Linked DNA regions of Homo sapiens: region 2 is linked to region 1. The links come from fine-mapping of genetic effects on gene expression. A gene starts in region 1. The other region holds a variant in brackets. All regions are shown on one strand. Distances are from middle to middle. Region 1 holds the start of CCSAP (centriole, cilia and spindle associated protein). Region 2 overlaps LOC124904541 (a long non-coding RNA gene).

What was found.
Region 2: its variant is fine-mapped to the expression of CCSAP in whole blood (TOPMed, PIP 0.96). The same link has a PIP of 0.9 or more in monocytes.

Annotation. Positions count from the first base shown.
Region 1 is chr1:229,338,173-229,346,853 of GRCh38, forward strand. It overlaps CCSAP (centriole, cilia and spindle associated protein), which reads right to left and starts at 4,875. Exons shown (of 4, transcript NM_145257.5): 1 at 4,740-4,875; 2 at 3,927-4,341. The coding sequence starts at 4,293. RefSeq lists silencers at 3,924-4,123, 4,324-5,183, 6,030-6,324.
Region 2 is chr1:229,411,990-229,420,670 of GRCh38, forward strand. It overlaps LOC124904541 (a long non-coding RNA gene), which reads left to right. Exons shown (of 2, transcript XR_007066925.1): 2 at 1-53. Among named protein-coding and RNA genes, the nearest start is that of ACTA1, 18 kb to the right of the region's middle. RefSeq lists enhancers at 2,719-3,219, 4,482-4,983, 5,615-6,370, 6,371-7,124. The variant G/A (reference allele first, on the strand shown) is at 3,610.

The DNA.
Region 1 (8,681 bases):
GCTAAGATCCTGAGCTAAATCTTCATCTCCCATAATGGGAAGTCAGTAGATAATGTTCACAATCAAAAAGCCAACAGATAAGATTAAATAAAAAGAGGGTGGCCAATGCTGAAAGGAAAGCGAAACTGAGTGAAAGGAGCAAGGGGCATGGGTGGGAAATGGGGCAGGATCATGTTTTTTTCATTTTAAGCAAAATGTTTTAAATTACTGCACATGTAAACTTTGCTAAAAATAAAATCTAACCTAAAAAGAAAACGTGACTATGAAGTAAGGAATCGGAGACAGTCTAGACCACTCTTCATAGCATATTGGCTATGGGAGGAAAAGAATCTCACGGTTCACAAGCACTTCCACCCCCAAACCCCAACACACACACACACACACACACACACACACACACACAGAATTTCCTAACAGCTTTTTAGTATCCATCCCTTAAATAAGAATGAGAAACGAAGGATCATTAGACATTTGAGAAAAGTGCCTAACATGAAAATAGAGAATTACCAGCAAAAAGAAACAAAGAGGCAGAAGTGAAAGATTGTGCTGAAGAAACACAGAAAGAGAAGAAAACAAACGAAAAATTCTAATATATATCCTCAGTAAGATAAAACCCTACATGCATCAATCAGGAACCAGATACTGTGTTGTAAAAAGAAATAAAAAGGGACGGAAAGGAGGGAGGTAAGGGAGGGAATAAATGGCAGCCCAGAAAACAATTCAAGAGCTCTTACATTTAAAAGAAAAATAGGATCCCTCAAATGGAAAATGTAATAAGAGATTTAGAAGATACAGCTGAGAGTATCACCCAGAAAACAAAACAATAAAAGATGAAAATCTGTCAAGAAAAAACTTAGAAAATTAGAGGATAAAATGATAAAGTCTAATATCCAACTAAGGACTTCAGAAAAAAAAGAAATGGGAAAAAAAAAAAAAACAGAAATAAGAAAATAATTCCAGAAAACTTCCGGGAATTAAAAACATGAGTTTGTCTATAAAGACCTGCCAAGTGCCCAGCAAAGCAAAGGAAAACAGATCTAGATCAAGGAAAAATGTCAGAACATAAAGGCCAAAGAGAAGACCGTGAAAGCTTCCTGAGGGCAACACATTACCTACAAAAGATCAAGATCAAGAATCATAACGAGGCAGGCTGTAACATCAGCAGTCATAACACATAAGGAGGAATGCCCCCAGAGTTTCTACGGACAACTGTTCCAACCTAGAATTCCATGCCCAGCCACACTCACCAAATTGTAAGGGTAGAATAAAGCTATCTCTTGGCATTCAAAGAAAGCTAACCTCTGAACCATCCTTTCTTGGGAATCTACTAGAAGATGTGCTCCACCAAGAAGGGGTAAACCAAGAAAGAAAATGACATGAAAGGCACACGACAGAGACTCAAACCCAAGAGAGAAGCCAAGAAAGGTCCTAGGAGGATGGCCAAGGGCCCTCCCAAGATGCCAGCCAGGCAGCAGCCCACAGGAGCAGCAGCCAGCCCAGACAGAAGTAGGTCAGGGGCCCTGGGAGAGGCATCTTAAGATGACAAGAGTGATAGTGAACCTGATGTGTTGGTTGTATTGTGAAAGAAAAAAGGGAATCATGGGAAATAGTATGGGTCAGCTTTGAGTAACTTTTTCCATGGGCACAATACGGTACATACTAATTATGAATCCAACAAACTCTATGAGGACTGTATTGTGCAGGTGTGGAGATGGGCCGTGTGTGTGTGGGTGAGGAGAGCAGTAAAAAAGAATTAAAGTCAATAGATAATGTTAAAAACTGAAAAAAAACAATCACATGTCAATAAAAGCCATGTTACTTGGAGATACAGAAATAAATACCAAAGGAAAAACCAGGGTGTTATGTATGGCATAGGGCTGATGTGCTTTTGTAATAAGTCAGACAGAACTACGTGATTCTATGTGCATCTATGGCTTCAGGGAAAGTAAAAAATTTTATATTTTATAGAAACTCAAAAGAGTGCTCATTGCACTAGTATTTAAAACCATCCACTTAAAAACCAGGATATTTAATCTTGTGCAAGCAACACAGGAGTCAAGAGGGCCTTACGGGTAGGAGCAAAACAAAAGATGCTGCGATTGAGTCCTGAAAGCAGAAAACATCCTTTCTTCTTCCTGATGCCTAAACCAGAAACGTTAGCAGGGAAGAAATAACTGAGAGGACGCTATATTTAAGGAAACCAAAATAATCATGAACTCAGAGCTTACCTGAGCTGGTAAATACAGGCACCATCCATATCACAACGCTGCCTAAAAATTGTATTTATATTGCATGCAAATATTTGACAACTCCATCACAAACAATAAAAGATCGGGGAGAGAAAAGCCATTTAGCCTGATAAAGTACATCTCAATTTAGCTAGCAGATCAGTACCCACAGGAATAATCTGGAAGGCATGTTCCCTACCCCCTCCACCTTCTGTTATTTGCATTTCTAGCAGTGATCACTGAAGCATCAGGATTTGTGGGGATTCACAAGTAACATCATGATGGGAGGAGGCAGCCCTGCCTCCGATGATGAGCTGAAAATAGCTGAAGATGGTAAAACCAAGAGCAAAGCAACCCGGCTCATAGCCGAAATTTCATCTCCTCCTCAGCCTCTCACAGAGAAGCCAGGAAGAGTCTGATTGGCTTGCAATCGGGTAAACAAAAATAAACACATAAATGAATAAAGTCACTGATCCTGAGCTTCCGTTTTTTCATCTATAAAACTGAGATTAGGGCCGGGCATGGTGGCTCACTCCTGTAATCCCAACACTTTGGGAGGCCGAGGCGGGCGGATCACGAGGTGAGGAGTTTGAGACCAGCCTGACCAACATGGTGAAACCCCGTCTCCACTAAAAATACAAAAATTAGCCGGGCGTGGTGGCGCGTGCCTGTAATCCCAGCTACTCGGGAGGCTGAGGCAGGAGAATGACGTGAATCCGGGAGGCAGAGGTTGCAGTGAGCCGAGATCGCGCCACTGCGCTCCAGCCTGGGCCACAGAGCGAGACTCCGTCTCAAAAAAAAAAAAAAAAAAAGATTACAACATGGTCTCTTTTGGGATTGTTTTGAATATTAAATGACAACATACATATTCCCAGATCAGTGACTGAATGTCTAACAGGCTCCCAATACATTTTCCATGTTTTCCTCACTCGAGCCTTTTTAAAATCCAGTGATCTGGAAGGAACCATTGGTTACTCCAGGCTGTACTGAGGCGTTCAACTGGGTCCCCAGCCCTGCAAGCCTCTGGGCAGGAAAGAAGGTGAAGGGGCCATGCCTTGAAAACACGCGCAGCGCCACCGGCGCTTTCGGATCTGGACAGGCGAGGGAGGATGGGGAGGGACGGAAGGGGAGAGGCCCTAGCACTTATAAAGATGCTCTCACAGCCAAGTTATTCAACACTCCACGTAAACAAATGCAAAATATTCTTTAGGGACAGCGTAGCGAGGTCGGGGAGTTAATACGGAAAACAATGGCCCCATTCATCAGACAAAGCTTAGCTCTGTGGTTCTTAACCTTTTGGGTTACCTTTGAGAATCTGATTAAAGCTGGGGCTCCTCTGATCAAAAATGGGCGCCTAGAAATAAGCAGATGGGACTCAGTGGTTCGCCAAGAAATAAGATGGGATTCAGAGGTTTGCCAAGCCGCAGAGGCCCGCGAGGAAAGACCCCAGACTCAGCCAGCGGCGCTTCAATTGAGTTCACCGCTGGCTCGACCGAAAGCCACCTAATTAAGGAAATAAAGGGTGGCAAAGGCTGCCACCTTCCCTATTTTGTCAAGAGAGACGGATTCTGTCAACCGAAAAAAAAAAAAGGAAGAGCCAGCCCCGAGTGGCGCAAGAAATAAGAGATCAGCTGCTCAGAGCTTAGAGCAAACCGTCCCTGCGTGCAGGCCCCTCGCGCTCCCCTCCGGGCCGGGTACCTGGCAGAGCCGCGTCCTCCGCGTCCTCGGCCTCCGCGTCCCCGGCCTCCGCGTCCTGCTCCTCCGGGGCCCCGCGCGCCCGCCGTTCCGCCTCCTCCTGGGTCGCCGGCTCTACGGGCGGCGGGGGCGAGGGCGGGGCGCACCGGGGTGCGGGGCCCCCGGCGCCCGACGACTCTGACGACGCCGAGTCCTCCGAGGAGCCGGCCGGGCCCCAGTCGTCCCAGAGCCAGGGCGCGTGCGCCTGCTCCAGCAGCCGGCGGCCTAGGCGGTAGTGCAGCAGCTCGCGGTAGCACGGCCCGTACTCCTCCCAGCGCGGCTCCTGGTAGCGCTTCATGTACTCGCTCTTCACCCCGCTCCCCGGGGACATGGTGCCGTCCGCCGCCTCGAGCGCCAGCCGCTCCTCGCTGCCCGCAGCCTACGGGACCCGGTACACGACACAGAGGCCGCCCCGCCCCTCCGCCGGCCCTGCCCGCCGCGACGTTTAAACCCGGAGCCCCGCCCGGACGGGAGCAGGGGGCGGGTCCCGGCGAGGGCGGGGAGGGGGCGGGGCGGGGGCGGCCTCACCCGGCGGCCGGGACCAAGAGCAGAGGCGGGGACCGGGGCTGCTGGGGTCGAGGGGCGCGCCGCCGAGGAGGGCTGCTCAGTGGGCGGAAGGCAGGGAGGCTGCGGGCTGGGGCGAGGGGACCGCAGGAGACTGGGGCTGAGCGGGAGGAGGAGCGAGGGAGGGGAGCGGCGGGGCCCGTGATCGGGTGGTCCTGGGGTCTCCGGAGGCGTCCCCTGAGCTAGGCGTGCGGTCCCGCGGGGCTGCCTTACCTCCTTCCCGCCGCGCCCGGCCGATCCTCTGCGCCCAGGCCCGAGGCGCGCGTGGCGCAGCAGCTAAAGCGCAGCTCGCTCTCCCGCGCGCTTTCCTCCTGAGCAAGATGTCGCCGCGGCGGCCCGCGCTCCAGCTGCAGGCGGGAGGCGGTGGCGCCGCCTCAGTCCCGGAGCCTCCACGCGCGCTCCCGGCCCCCGGGCCTCCGCCCGCTCCGTGGGGGCGGCTGCTTCCGTAGAGAGCGCGAGGCGCGGGGGTGCGGGCGTGCCTGCCAGTCCGAGGGGCCCAGGCCCAGGTCCCTGGCCCACTTATTTGAGGTGCCCGTCCACCCTGGTCCCAGCAGACGCTGTCCCAGGCACGCGTCACTCTGCAGGAGTCGTCAGTTAGGGGCAAGAGATGATCCCTCCAGATATGCAGCCCCCCCAGGCTGCGGCCGGGGGCGACACTCTCTGTCCTCACTCGAAACCTACCGGTTCTTCCTCTCTGTGTTCACAACACCTGTTACTCTGGCTTTAACTCCCTTTTATATCTACACTCCCCAAATTCTTTTAGATTTTGATCAAAACCATTTCACTCGCTCAGAGATTCGTTTGCACATAAAAGCTTGACAGATTAACTTACGTTGTGCAGAAGTATACAAAGTTGTCCCATTTGTTACAGTTTCAAAAGTGGCCCCACACTCTTTTCCCTTTTTACACATAAAACCTTCACAGATCCAGTTACTTTGTGCAGAAGTATACAACGTTGCCCCATTTGTTACAGTTTCAAAAGTGGCCCCGCACTGTTTTCCCTTTTTGCTCATAAAACCTCCACAGATCCGGCTGAGCGCTGTGGCTCACGCCTGTAATCCCAGCATTTTGGGAGGCCGAGGCGGGTGGCTCACGAGGTCAGGAGATCGAGACCATCCTGGCTAACACAGTGAAACCCCATCTCTACTAAAAAAATAAAAATAAAAAGAATTAGCCCGGCGTGGTGGTGAACGGCTGTAGTCCCAGCTACTCGGGAGCCTGAGGCAGGAGAATGGCGTGAACCCGGGAGGCGGAGCTTGCAGTGAGCCTAGATTGCGCCACTGCACTCCAGCCTGGGCGACAGAGCAAGACTCCGTCTCAAAAAAAATAAAAAATAAAAAATAAAAACCTTCACAGATCCAGTTACATTGTACAGAAGAATACAACGTTGCCCCATTTGTTACAGTTTCAGAAGTGGTCCTGCACTATTTTCCCTTTCTTAAAAAAAGAGCCTTGATACAGTAGCTGCAAAAAGATTTGAAAGGAAAAAACTTTTGGAAAATCTAAATATATATATAGCAGTTAAAAAGCAAGCCCAGGCCGTGAGTAGCGCTCACGGCTTCCACGTCAGGATTCCCACGAATTCACCTACTTTCTACGTGTCCGCATCCTGCCTCCCACCACCACCGCCCACCTCATCATAGCTAAATGATTCAGAGGCGGCTACTGGCCCAAATGGGGCGGGTCAGACCGTCTGCTCTGAAAACTTGAAGTTACTAGTCCAATCATTAGCACGGGATTGTGTTAATGGCAGTTTTCTGGACGGAAACTCCAGGATACCCTGCTGCTAATGAGTCCGCGGACGCCATGATTTCTCCCCTTCCCAACTTTATTTTCTGTTCCTTGACTTACATTAGGGACATTCTAATGCACTTTCCTTTTGTTTAAGCTGGCTGGGGTTGGTTTCTGATGTTTGCAACCAAAGTAGCCTTAATAAAGATTGAATAAGGTGGGGAAATGGTTATATGTAGTTCTATGGGACATGCAGGACACCATCGGTTTCAGCTTTTGCTGCATAATTCACTCCAAAACTCAGTGGTTTAAAACAGCTAAGATTTATTATTTCTTATGATTCTGAGGGTTAGCTGGGCAGTTCCTCCGCAGTTGGATTCTGATGGAGAGACAGCAGGGCTGGAAGTTTCAAGATGACCTCCTGATATAGTTGGGATAATTCCTCCAAATCTGAAGTTGAAATTGATCCCCAATGTTGGAGGTGGGGCCTAGTGGGAAGTGTGTGGGTCATGGGGGCAGATCCCTCATGCATGGCTTGGTGCCATTCTTCAGTAACGAGTGAGTTCTCACTCTTTTAGTTTGCATGAGAGCTTGTTGTTCAAAAAGAGCCTGGCATGTCCTCCTCTCTCTCTCTCACTCCCTTTCTCTCTCCATGTGACATGACAGCTCCCCTTCCCCTTCCACCATGATTGGAAGCTCCCTGAGGCCTCACCAGAAGCAGATGCTGACACTGTGCTTCCTGTATAGCCTGCAGAACCATGAGCCAAATAAACCTGTTTTATTTATAAATTACCCAGCCTCCGGTATTCCTTTATAACAGCACAAAACAAACTAGTACACCTCCCTTACATAACTGGCAGTGGGGTGGGCTGTGGGCTGGGCCGTCTTGGTCACATCCTCCAGAAGCCTGGACTGGCATCTCAAGGTCATATACATCTCCTGCTGCATTCTCACGTTCAAAGAAATCACAAGGCTAAGAGTCAAGGGAGAGAAATGAACTTCCCTTCTGCATAAGAGGAGCAGCAAATTCACATTCCAAAAGGGATTGCATACCGGGTGAAGGAATTTGCGGGCATATTTTACAATCTTCAACACAACACACACACACACACACACACACAAATATAAGGGCACTCTGGGAGGCCAAGGCAGGCGGATCACCTGAGGTCAGGAGTTCAAGACCAACCTGGCCAACATGGCGAAACCTCATTTTTACTAAAAATACAAAAATTAGCTGGACTTGGTGGTGCATGCTTGTAGTCCCAGCTACTCCGGAGGCTGACAGGAGAATTACTTGAACCTGAGAGGCAGAGGTAAGCTGAGATCATACCACTGCACTCTAACCTGAGCGACTGCACCCTATTTACAAGAGAGGCTTGCAAATATCTGGCTTTTCTAGGTTCTACACTGGCATGGGAATTCATAAAAAGTGTCAAGTAGATAGCGGATGTCTCCTGAGTATGTTTGTATTTGGAAGGGGCAGTCGGGGGCTGGGGACGGGGGGAGAGAGAGGGAGAGAGAACAGCACCATCCAGAGACAAATGGGAAGGAGAGGGCAGTGGATGGAAGGAGCACTGTGTGGGAGGAGTGGGTACAGAGCACGTGAATTGGGGAGGAGTCAGGAGGAGTGGGTACACAGCATGTGAGTTGGAAGATCAGCTTTTTCTCAGAAGCAAGGAAGAGGGAAGTTGAGGAAGCCCTCGGAGGATGGCCTCCCCTGGCTCAGAAGAAGAAAATTATTGAGATAGGATGGGCTGGCAAGCTGAGGGAGTGATAGTGCCAGAGGCTTAGGGTGGAAGGGCTCCAAGAGGTTCAGCCACACCCCCCGAGAGGTGGACAGCCTTCATGTCCCTGTGAGGCTGCCTGTTCTGCTCCTGGCCAGACTCGGTCGCCAGCAGATTTTCTCATGTGGAATCTGTATGCCTGTGTGGCAAATATCTATTGTTTATCTTTCAGGAGTGCAGCTCCAGGCCCTTTTTTTTTGGAGATGGAGTCTCACTCTGTCGCCCAGGCTGGAGTGCAGTGGCGCGATCTTGGCTCACTGCAACTCCCCTTCCTGAGTTCAAGCTATTCCCCTGCCTCAGCCTCCTGAGTAGCTGGGACTACAGGCACCTGCCACCATGCCCGGCTAGATTTTGTATTTTTAGTAGAGACAGAGTTTCACCATGTTGGCCACGCTGGTCTTGAACTCCTGACCTCAGGTGATCCATCTGCCTCGGCCTCTCAAAGTGCTGGGATTACAGCATGAGCCACTGTGCCTGGCCAGATCTTCCTTTCTATTGGCTCCCCAATCTCCATCAGAGGAAGATGCCCCTCCTCGCCCAGGGCTGCCTCCCATCCAGGGCTTCCTCTGCCAAAATTGAGGGCACAGATCCTCCCTCTCCTGCCTATGCCTGGATCTTGCAGCCTGGTTTCTGGAGTCCC
Region 2 (8,681 bases), 74 kb after region 1:
AACAGTTCAATGGATTTCCATTGCTCTTAAAATAAAAATTATATATACATTCAGCAGTGGAGGGTCTGCACAGGCTAGATTGGCCAACTGTGCCTCCTTGACAACCCCACGCCACCCCTACCCTCTCTCCCAGCTACACTGACCTCCCTTCAGGACTTAAAGGATCCCAGGACCTTGCTAGAGGTGTTCAACCTGCCTTTCAGAGCTGCACTTGCTCTGGAAGCCCTTCCTGACCGAGGATTGGTCAATGCTGTCCCATGCCACACCCCTCCTTTGTAGCATGTGTGAAATGTGCAGAGGCACATTGGTTCAAGTTGCTATTTGGTTGTTTGCTTGAGATGGAATCTTACTCTATTGCCCACGCTGGAGGGCAATGGCACAATCGCGGCTGGCTGCAACCTCTGCCTCCCGGGTTTGAGGGATTCTCCTGTCAGGCCTCTGAGCCCAAGCTAAGCCATCGCAGCCCCGGTGACTTGCACATATATGCCCAGATGGCCTGAAGTAACTGAAGAATCACAAAAGAAGTGAAAATGGCCGGTCCTTGCCTTAAGTGATGACATTACCTTGTAAAAGTCCTTTTCCTGGCTCATCCTGGCTCAAAAAGCTCCCCTACTGAGCACCTTATGACCCCCACTCCTGCCAGCCAGAGAACAACCCCCCTTTTGACTGTAATTTTCCTTTACCTGCCCAAATCCTATAAAACTGCCCCACCCTTAACTCCCTTCGCTTTCTTTTCGGACTCAGCCCACCTGCACTCAGGTGAAATAAACAGCTTTATTGCTCACACAAAACCTGTTTGGTGGTCTCTTCACATGGACGCGCATGAAATATGTTGCTGTGACTGGGATCAGGGGACCTCCCTTGGGAGATCAATCCCCTGTCCTCCTGTTCTTTGCTCCGTGAAAAAGATCCACCTACGACCTCAGGTCCTCAGACCCACCAGCCCAAGGAACATCTCACCAATTTTAAATCAGGTAAGTGACCTCTTCTTACTCTCTTCTCCAACCTTTCTCATTGTCCCTCAACCACTTTCTCCTTTCCACTCTTCAATCTCTCCCTTTTCTTAATTTCAATTCCTTTCATTTTCTGGTAGAGACAAAGGAGACACGTTTTATCTGTGGACCCAAAACTCTGGCGCCGGTCATGGACTGGCAAGGCAGCCTTCCCTTGGTGTCTAATCATTGCAGGGACACCTCTCTGATTATTAACCCAGGTTTCAGAGGTGTCAGACCATGCAGGGACGCCTGACTTGGTCCTTCACCCTTAGCAGCAAATCCCGCTTTTCTGGGGGAGGGGCAAGTACCCCAACCCCTTCTCATGTCTCTACCCCTTCTCTGCCTTTCTGGGGGGCAAGAAACCCCCAACCCCTTCTGCTTCACTCTTAGCGGCAAGTCCTGCTTTTCTGGGGAAGGGGCAAGTACCCCAACCCCTTATCTCTGTGTCTCTACCCCTTCTCTGCTTTTCTGGGGGAGGGGCAAGTACCCTTCAACCCCTTCTCCTTCACCCTTAGTGGCAAGTCTCACTTTTCTAGGGGGCAAGAACCCCCAATCCCTTATTTCCATGCCCCAACCCCTTTCCCACTTTTCTGGAGGGTAAGAACCCCCAAACCCCTTCCCTCCGTGTCTCTATGCTCTCTTTTCTCTGGGCTTGCCTCCTTCACTATGGGCAACCTTCCACCCTCCATTCCTCCTCCTTCTCCCTTAGTCTGTGTTCTCAAGAACTTAAAAACCTCTTCAACTCACACCTGACCTCAAACCTAAATGCCTTATTTTCTTCTGCAATGCCGCTTGACCCCAATACAAACTTGACAGTGGTTCCAAATAGCCAGAAAACAGCACTTTGAATTTTTCCATCCTGCAAGATCTACATAATTCTTGTCGTAAAATAGGCAAACGGTCTGAGGTGCCTGATGTCCAGGCATTCTTTTACACATCAGTCCCTTCCTAGTCTCTGTGCCCAATGCAACTTGTCCCAAATCTTCCTTCTTTCCCTCCTGCCTGTCCCCTCAGTCCCAACCCCAAGGGTCGCTGAGTCTTTCTAATCTTCCTTTTCTACAGACCCATCTGACCTCTCCCCTCCTCACCAGGCTGAGCTAGGTCCCAATTCTTCCTCAGCCTCCGCTCCTCCACCCTATAATCTTTTTATCGCCTCCCCTCCTCACACCTGGTCCGGCTTACAGTTTCGTTCCGTGACTAGCCCTCCCCCACCTGCCCAGCAATTTCCTCTTAAAAAGGTGGCTGGAGCTAAAGGCATAGTCAAGGTTAATGCTCCTTTTTCTTTATCCCAAATCTGATAGCGTTTAGGCTCTTTTTCATCAAATATAAAAATCCAGCCCAGTTCATGGCTCGTTTGGCAGCAACCCTGAGACGCTTTACAGCCCTGGACCCTAAAAGGTCAAAAGGCCGTCTTATTCTCAATATGCATTTTATTACCCAATCTGCTCCTGACATTAAATAAAACTCCAAAACTTAAATTCCAGCCCTCAAACCCCACAACAGGATTTAATTAACCTTGCCTTCAAGGTGTACAATAATAGAAAAAAGTTGCAATTCCTTGCCTCCACTGTGAGACAAACCCCAGCCACATCTCCAGCACACAAGAACTTCCAAACGCCTGAACCGCAGCTGCCAGGCGTTCCTCCAGAACCTCCTCCCACAGGAGCTTGCTACATGTGCCGGAAATCTGGCCACCGGGCCAAGGAATGCCCACAGCCCGGGATTCCTCCTAAGCCATGTCCCATCTGTGTGGGACCCCACTGAAAATCAGACTGTTCAACTAACCTGGCAGCCAGTTCCAGAGCCCCTGGAACTCTGGCCCAAGGCTCTCTGACTGACTCCTTCCCAGATCTTCTCGGCTTAGCAGCTGAAGACTGACACTGCCCGATCGCCTCGGAAGCCTACAGGACCGTCACAGATGCTCTAGGTAACTCTCGCAGTAGAGGATAAGTCCATCCCCTTCTTAATACGGAGGCCACCCACTCCACATTACCTTCTTTTCAAGGGCCTGTTTCCCTTGCCTCCATAACTATTGTGGGTATTGACGGCCAGGCTTCTAAACCTCTTAAAACTCCTCAACTCTAGTGCCAACTTAGACAACATTCTTTTATGCACTCTCTTTTAGTTATCCCCACCTGCCCAGCTCCCTTATTAGGCCAAGACATTTTAACTAAATTATCTGCTTCCCTATTCCTGGACTACAGCCGCATCTCATTGCCAGCCTTCTCCCAAACCCAAAGCCTCCTTTGCATCTTCCTCTTGTATCCCCCCACCTTAACCACAAGTATGGGACATCTCTACTCCTTCCCTGGCAACCGATCACATGCCCATTACCATCCCATTAAAACCTAATCACCCTTACCCCGCTCAACGCCAATATCCCATCCCACAGCACACTTTAAAAGGATTAAAGCCTGTTATCACTCGCCTGCTACAGCATAGGCTTCTAAAACCTATGAACTCCCCTTACAATTTCCCCATTTCACCTGTCCTAAAACTAGACAAGGCTTACAGGCTGATTCAAGATCTGCGACTTATCAACCAAATTATTTTGCCTATCCACCCCATGGTGCCGAACCCATATACTCTCCTATCCTCAGTACCTCCCTCCACA[G/A]CCCATTATTCTGTTCTAGATCTCAAACATGCTTTCTTTACTATTCCTTTGCACCCTTCATCCCAGCCTCTCTTCACTTTCACTTGGACTAATCCTGACACCCATCAGGCTCAGCAAATTACCTGGGCTGTACTGCTGCAAGGCTTCACAGACATCCCCCATTACTTCAGTCAAGCCCAAATTTCAACCTCATCTGTTACCTATCTCGGCATAATTCTCATAAAAACACTCGTGCTCTCCCTGCTGATCGTGTCCGGCTAATCTCCCAAACCCCAATCCTTTCTACAAAACAACAACTCCTTTCCTTCCTAGGCATGGTTAGTGCGGTCAGAATTCTTACACAAGAGCCAGGACCGCACCCTGTAGGCTTTCTGTCGAAACAACTTGACCTTACTGTTTTAGCCTCGCCCTCATGTCTGCTTGCAGTGGCTGCCACTGCTTTAATACTTTTAGAGGCCCTCAAAATCACAAACTATGCTCAACTCACTCTCTACAGTTCTCATAACTTCCAAAATCTATTTTCTTCCTCACACCTGATGCATACACTTTCTGCTCCTCAGCTCCTTCAGCTGTACTCACTCTTTGTTAAGTCCCACAATTACCATTGTTCCTGGCCCAGACTTCAATCCGGCCTCCCACATTATTCCAGATACCACACCTGACCCTCATGACTGCATCTCTCTGATCCACCTGACGTTCACCCCATATCCCCACGTTTCCTTCTTTCCTGTTTCTCACCCTGATCACATTTGGTTTATTGATGGCAGTTCCACCAGGCCTAATCGCCACTCACCAGCAAAGGCAGGCTACGCTATAGTATCTTCCACATTTATCATTGAGGCTACTGCTCTGCCCCCCTCCACTATCTCTCAGAAAGCCGAACTAGTTGCCTTAACTCAAGCCCTCACTCTTGCAAAAAGACTATGCGTCAATATCTATACTGATTCTAAATATGCCTTTCATATTCTGCACCACCATGTGGTCACATGGGCTGAAAGAGGTTTCCTCACTACGCAAGGGTCCTCCATCATTAATGCCTCTAATAAAAACTCTGCTCAAGGCCGCTTCACTTCCAAAGGAAGCTGGAGTCATTCACTGCAAAGGCCATCAAAAGGCATCAGATCCCATTGCTCTAGGCAACGCTTATGCTGATAAGGTGGCTAGACAAGCAGCTAGCTCTCCACCTTCTGTCCCTTACAGCCAGTTTTTCTCCTTCACATCAGTCATTCCCACCTACTCCCCTGCTGAAACTTCCACCTATCAATCTCTTCCCACACAAGGCAAATGGTTCTTAGACCAAGGAAAATATCTCCTTGCAGCCTCACAGTCCCATTCTATTCTGTTGTCATTTCATAACCTCTTCCATGTAGGTTACAAGCCGCTAGCCCGTCTCTTAGAACCTCTCATTTCCTTTCCATCCTGGAAATCTATCCTCAAGGAAATCACTTCTCAGTGTTCCATCTGCTATTCTACTGCCCCTCAGGGATTGTTCAGGCCTCCTCCCTTCCCTACACATCAAGCTCGGGGATTTGCCCCTGCCCAGGACTGGCAAATTGACTTTACTCACATGCCCCGAGTCAGGAAACTAAAATATCTCCTAGTCTAGGTAGACACTTTCACTGGATAGGTAGAGGCCTTTCCTACAGGGTCTGAGAAGTCCACCGCGGTCATTTCTTCCCTTCTGTCAGACATAATTCCTCGGTTTGGCCTTCCCACCTCTATACAGTCAGATAGCAGACCGGCCTTTATTAGTCAAATCAGCCAAGCATTTTTTTCAGGCTCTTAGTATTCAGTGAAACCTTTATATCCCTTACGGTCCTCAGTCTTCAGGAAAGGTAGAACAGACTAATAGTCTTTTAAAAACACACCTCACCAAGCTCAGCCACCAACTTAAAAAGGACTGGACAATACTTTTACCACTTTCCCTTCTCAGAATTCAAGCCTGTCCTCAGAATGCTACAAGGTACAGCCCATTTGAGCTCCTGTATAGATGCTCCTTTTTATTAGGCCCCAGTCTCATTCCAGACACCAGACCAACTTGGACGGTGCTCCAAAAAAATTGTCATCCCTACTATCTTCTGTCTAGTCATAATCCTATTCACCGTTCTCAGCTACTCACACATGCCCTGCTTTTGTTTACACTGCCGGTTTATACTGTTTCTCCAAGCCATCACAGCTGATATGGATGCTATCCCCAAACTGCCACTCTTAAGTCTTAAAGTAAATAATCTTTGCTGGCAGGACTATGCTGAACCTCCTTAGGCACTCTCTAATTAGATGTCCTGGGTCCTCCCAATTCTTAGACCTTTAATACCTGTTTTTCTCCTTCTCTTATTCTGTTTAGTTTTTCAATTCATACAAAACTGTATCCAGGCCATCACCAATAATTCTAAATGACAAATGTTTCTTCTAACAACCCCACAATGTCACCCCTTACCACAAAATCTTCCTTCAGCTTAATCTCTCCCACTCTAGGTTCCCACGCCGCCCCTAATCCCACTTGAAGCAGCCCTGAGAAACATCGCCCATTCTCTCTCCATACCACCCCCCAAAAATTTTCGCCGCCCTAACACTTCAACACTATTTTGCTTTATTTTTCTTATTAATATAAGAAGGCAGGAATGTCAGGCCTCTGAGCCCAAGCCAAGCCATCACACCCCCGGTGACTTGCACATATACACCCAGATGGCCTGAAGTAACTGAAGAATCACAAAAGAAGTCAAAATGCCCTGCCCTACCTTAACTGATGACATTCCACCACAAAAGAAGTGAAAATGGCCGGTCCTTGCCTTAAGTGATGACATTACCTTGTAAAAGTCCTTTTCCTGGCTCATTCTGGCTCAAAAAGCTCCCCTACTGAGCACCTTATGACCCCCACTCCTGCCCGCCAGAGAACAACCCCCCTTTTGACTGTAATTTTCCTTTACCTGCCCAAATCCTATAAAACGGCCCCACCCTTAATTCCCTTTGTTTTCTTTTCGGACTCAGCCCACCTGCACCCAGGTGAAATAAACAGCTTTGTTGCTCACACAAAGCCTGTTTGGTGGTCTCTTCACAAGGCGCATGAAACTCCCACCTCAGCCTCCTGAGTAGCTGGGATTACAGGCACCCACCACCACACCTGGCTAATTTTTGTATCTTTAAGAGAGATGGGCAGGGCGCAGTGGCTTACGTCTGTAATCCCTTCACTTTGGGAGGTCAAGGAGGGCGGATCACAAGGTCAGGTGGCCGGAAGCAACTGAAGATCCACAAAAGAAGTGAAAATAGCCTTAACTGATGACATTCCACCATTGTGATTTGTTTCTGCCCCACCCTAACTGATCAATGTACTTTGTAATCTCCCCCACCCGTAAGAAAGTTCTTTGTAATTCTCCTCACCCTTGAGAATGTACTTAGTGAGATCCACCCCCTGCCCACAAAACATTGCTCCTAACTCCACCGCCTATCCCCAAACCTATAAGAACTAATGATAATCCACCACCCTTTGCTGACTCTCTTTTTGGACTCAGTCCCCCTGCACCTAAGTGAAATAAACAGCTTTGTTGCCCACACAAAGCCTGTTTGGTGATCTCTTCACACGGACACGTGAGACAGAGACCAGCCTGGCCAACATGGTGAAACTCCATCTCTACTAAAAATACAAAAATTGGCGGGGTGTGGTAGTGCATGCCTGTAATCCCAGCTACTCAGGAGGCTGAGGCAGGAGAATTACTTGAACCCGGGAGGTGGAGGTTGCAGTGAGCCGAGATGGTGCCACTGCACTCCAGCCTGGGTGACAGAGCGAGATTCTGTCTCAAAAAAAAAAAAAAGAGAGAGAGAGAGAGAGAGAGAGAGATGGGGTTTTACCATGTTGGCCAGGCTGGTCTCAAACTTCTGACCTCAGGTGATGCACCCACCTTGGCCTCCCAAAGTGCTGGGATTACAGGCCTGAGCCACTGCACCCAGCCCATGTTGCTGTTTGATCAATATCTGCCTCTCAGCTAGACTGCCAGCTCCCTGAGGGCCGAGACACTGATTTGTAGGTGCTCAGCAAGTGTCGGTTGAATAAATTAGTGAATTAATTGAGGATTGGAGGGGGTGCCAATAAGCAGGGCAATAGCAGGGGAGGGGGTTCTGGATCCGTTTGGAAAATAAGCTGAAGAATAATGTCAACTTGATTTTAGATGTCTTAATTTCTCAGACTGAGGAGCAGCACAGCTCCCTCCCATGTAGTCCCATAACCAGGAAAGTGCATGGAGGAAAAAGGACACAGACACTTCCCTGGCTGGGGGGCCACAGTGCCTGTGCTCTCCTGTAGCCTGGAACAATTCGCTTTGCCTCATGGTGCCCGGGGCTGCCCCTTGGAAAAAATACAGCCACCCAGTGCAGGGCTGGGACTGGGTGTGGGAAGTGAGGCACATCCTCTGTGCTGGTGGTACAAGTGCAAGTGCAGATTCTGGGGCCTCTCACCTCATCCTCATCCCAGCCTGAACCAGTGTTTGCCTTGCCCATGTCGGGAAGAGATCCCATGATAATTTCAGAGATGCTGAGTTTCCTGGCTTAAAAATTCCTGGTCTCCAGTGCCAGCGTGGTGTGGGAAAACACATGCAGCTCCCCCATCCCCCAAACCTGGGAGAATGACCCTGGTAGGTTCCGCCCCAGGGCACCTGGAGATCTGAGCATGGAGGTCTTCCGGGAGCCTCACTGTACCTGCATGGTCCTGCTTCCACCTGCCTGCCTTGCACTGAGCACTAGAGGCTGAAACAAACATTAGCAGAAAATCCAGATTCTAGAAACAGATGACATGCGCCCTGAGATGACGCCCTAACATGCGCCCTGACACGCGCCCAGGGATGACAGGCATCCTTTTGAAGCATTTACTTGAGAAGAAGTTCAAGTAGGGTTAAGTTATTCCATATAACTATATTCCATATCGCACGTCTCCGTTCCTGCAATGGTAGCGATACTCCATAAATATGTGTTGATGAATGGACAAAACTAAAGGGAGGGAAGAAAGTGGGGGAGAATCTTGAGCTCTGTAGCTTTGGAAGGAGAAAGAATACAGTGGAACCTTTTCTGAAGCTCTCAAGGAA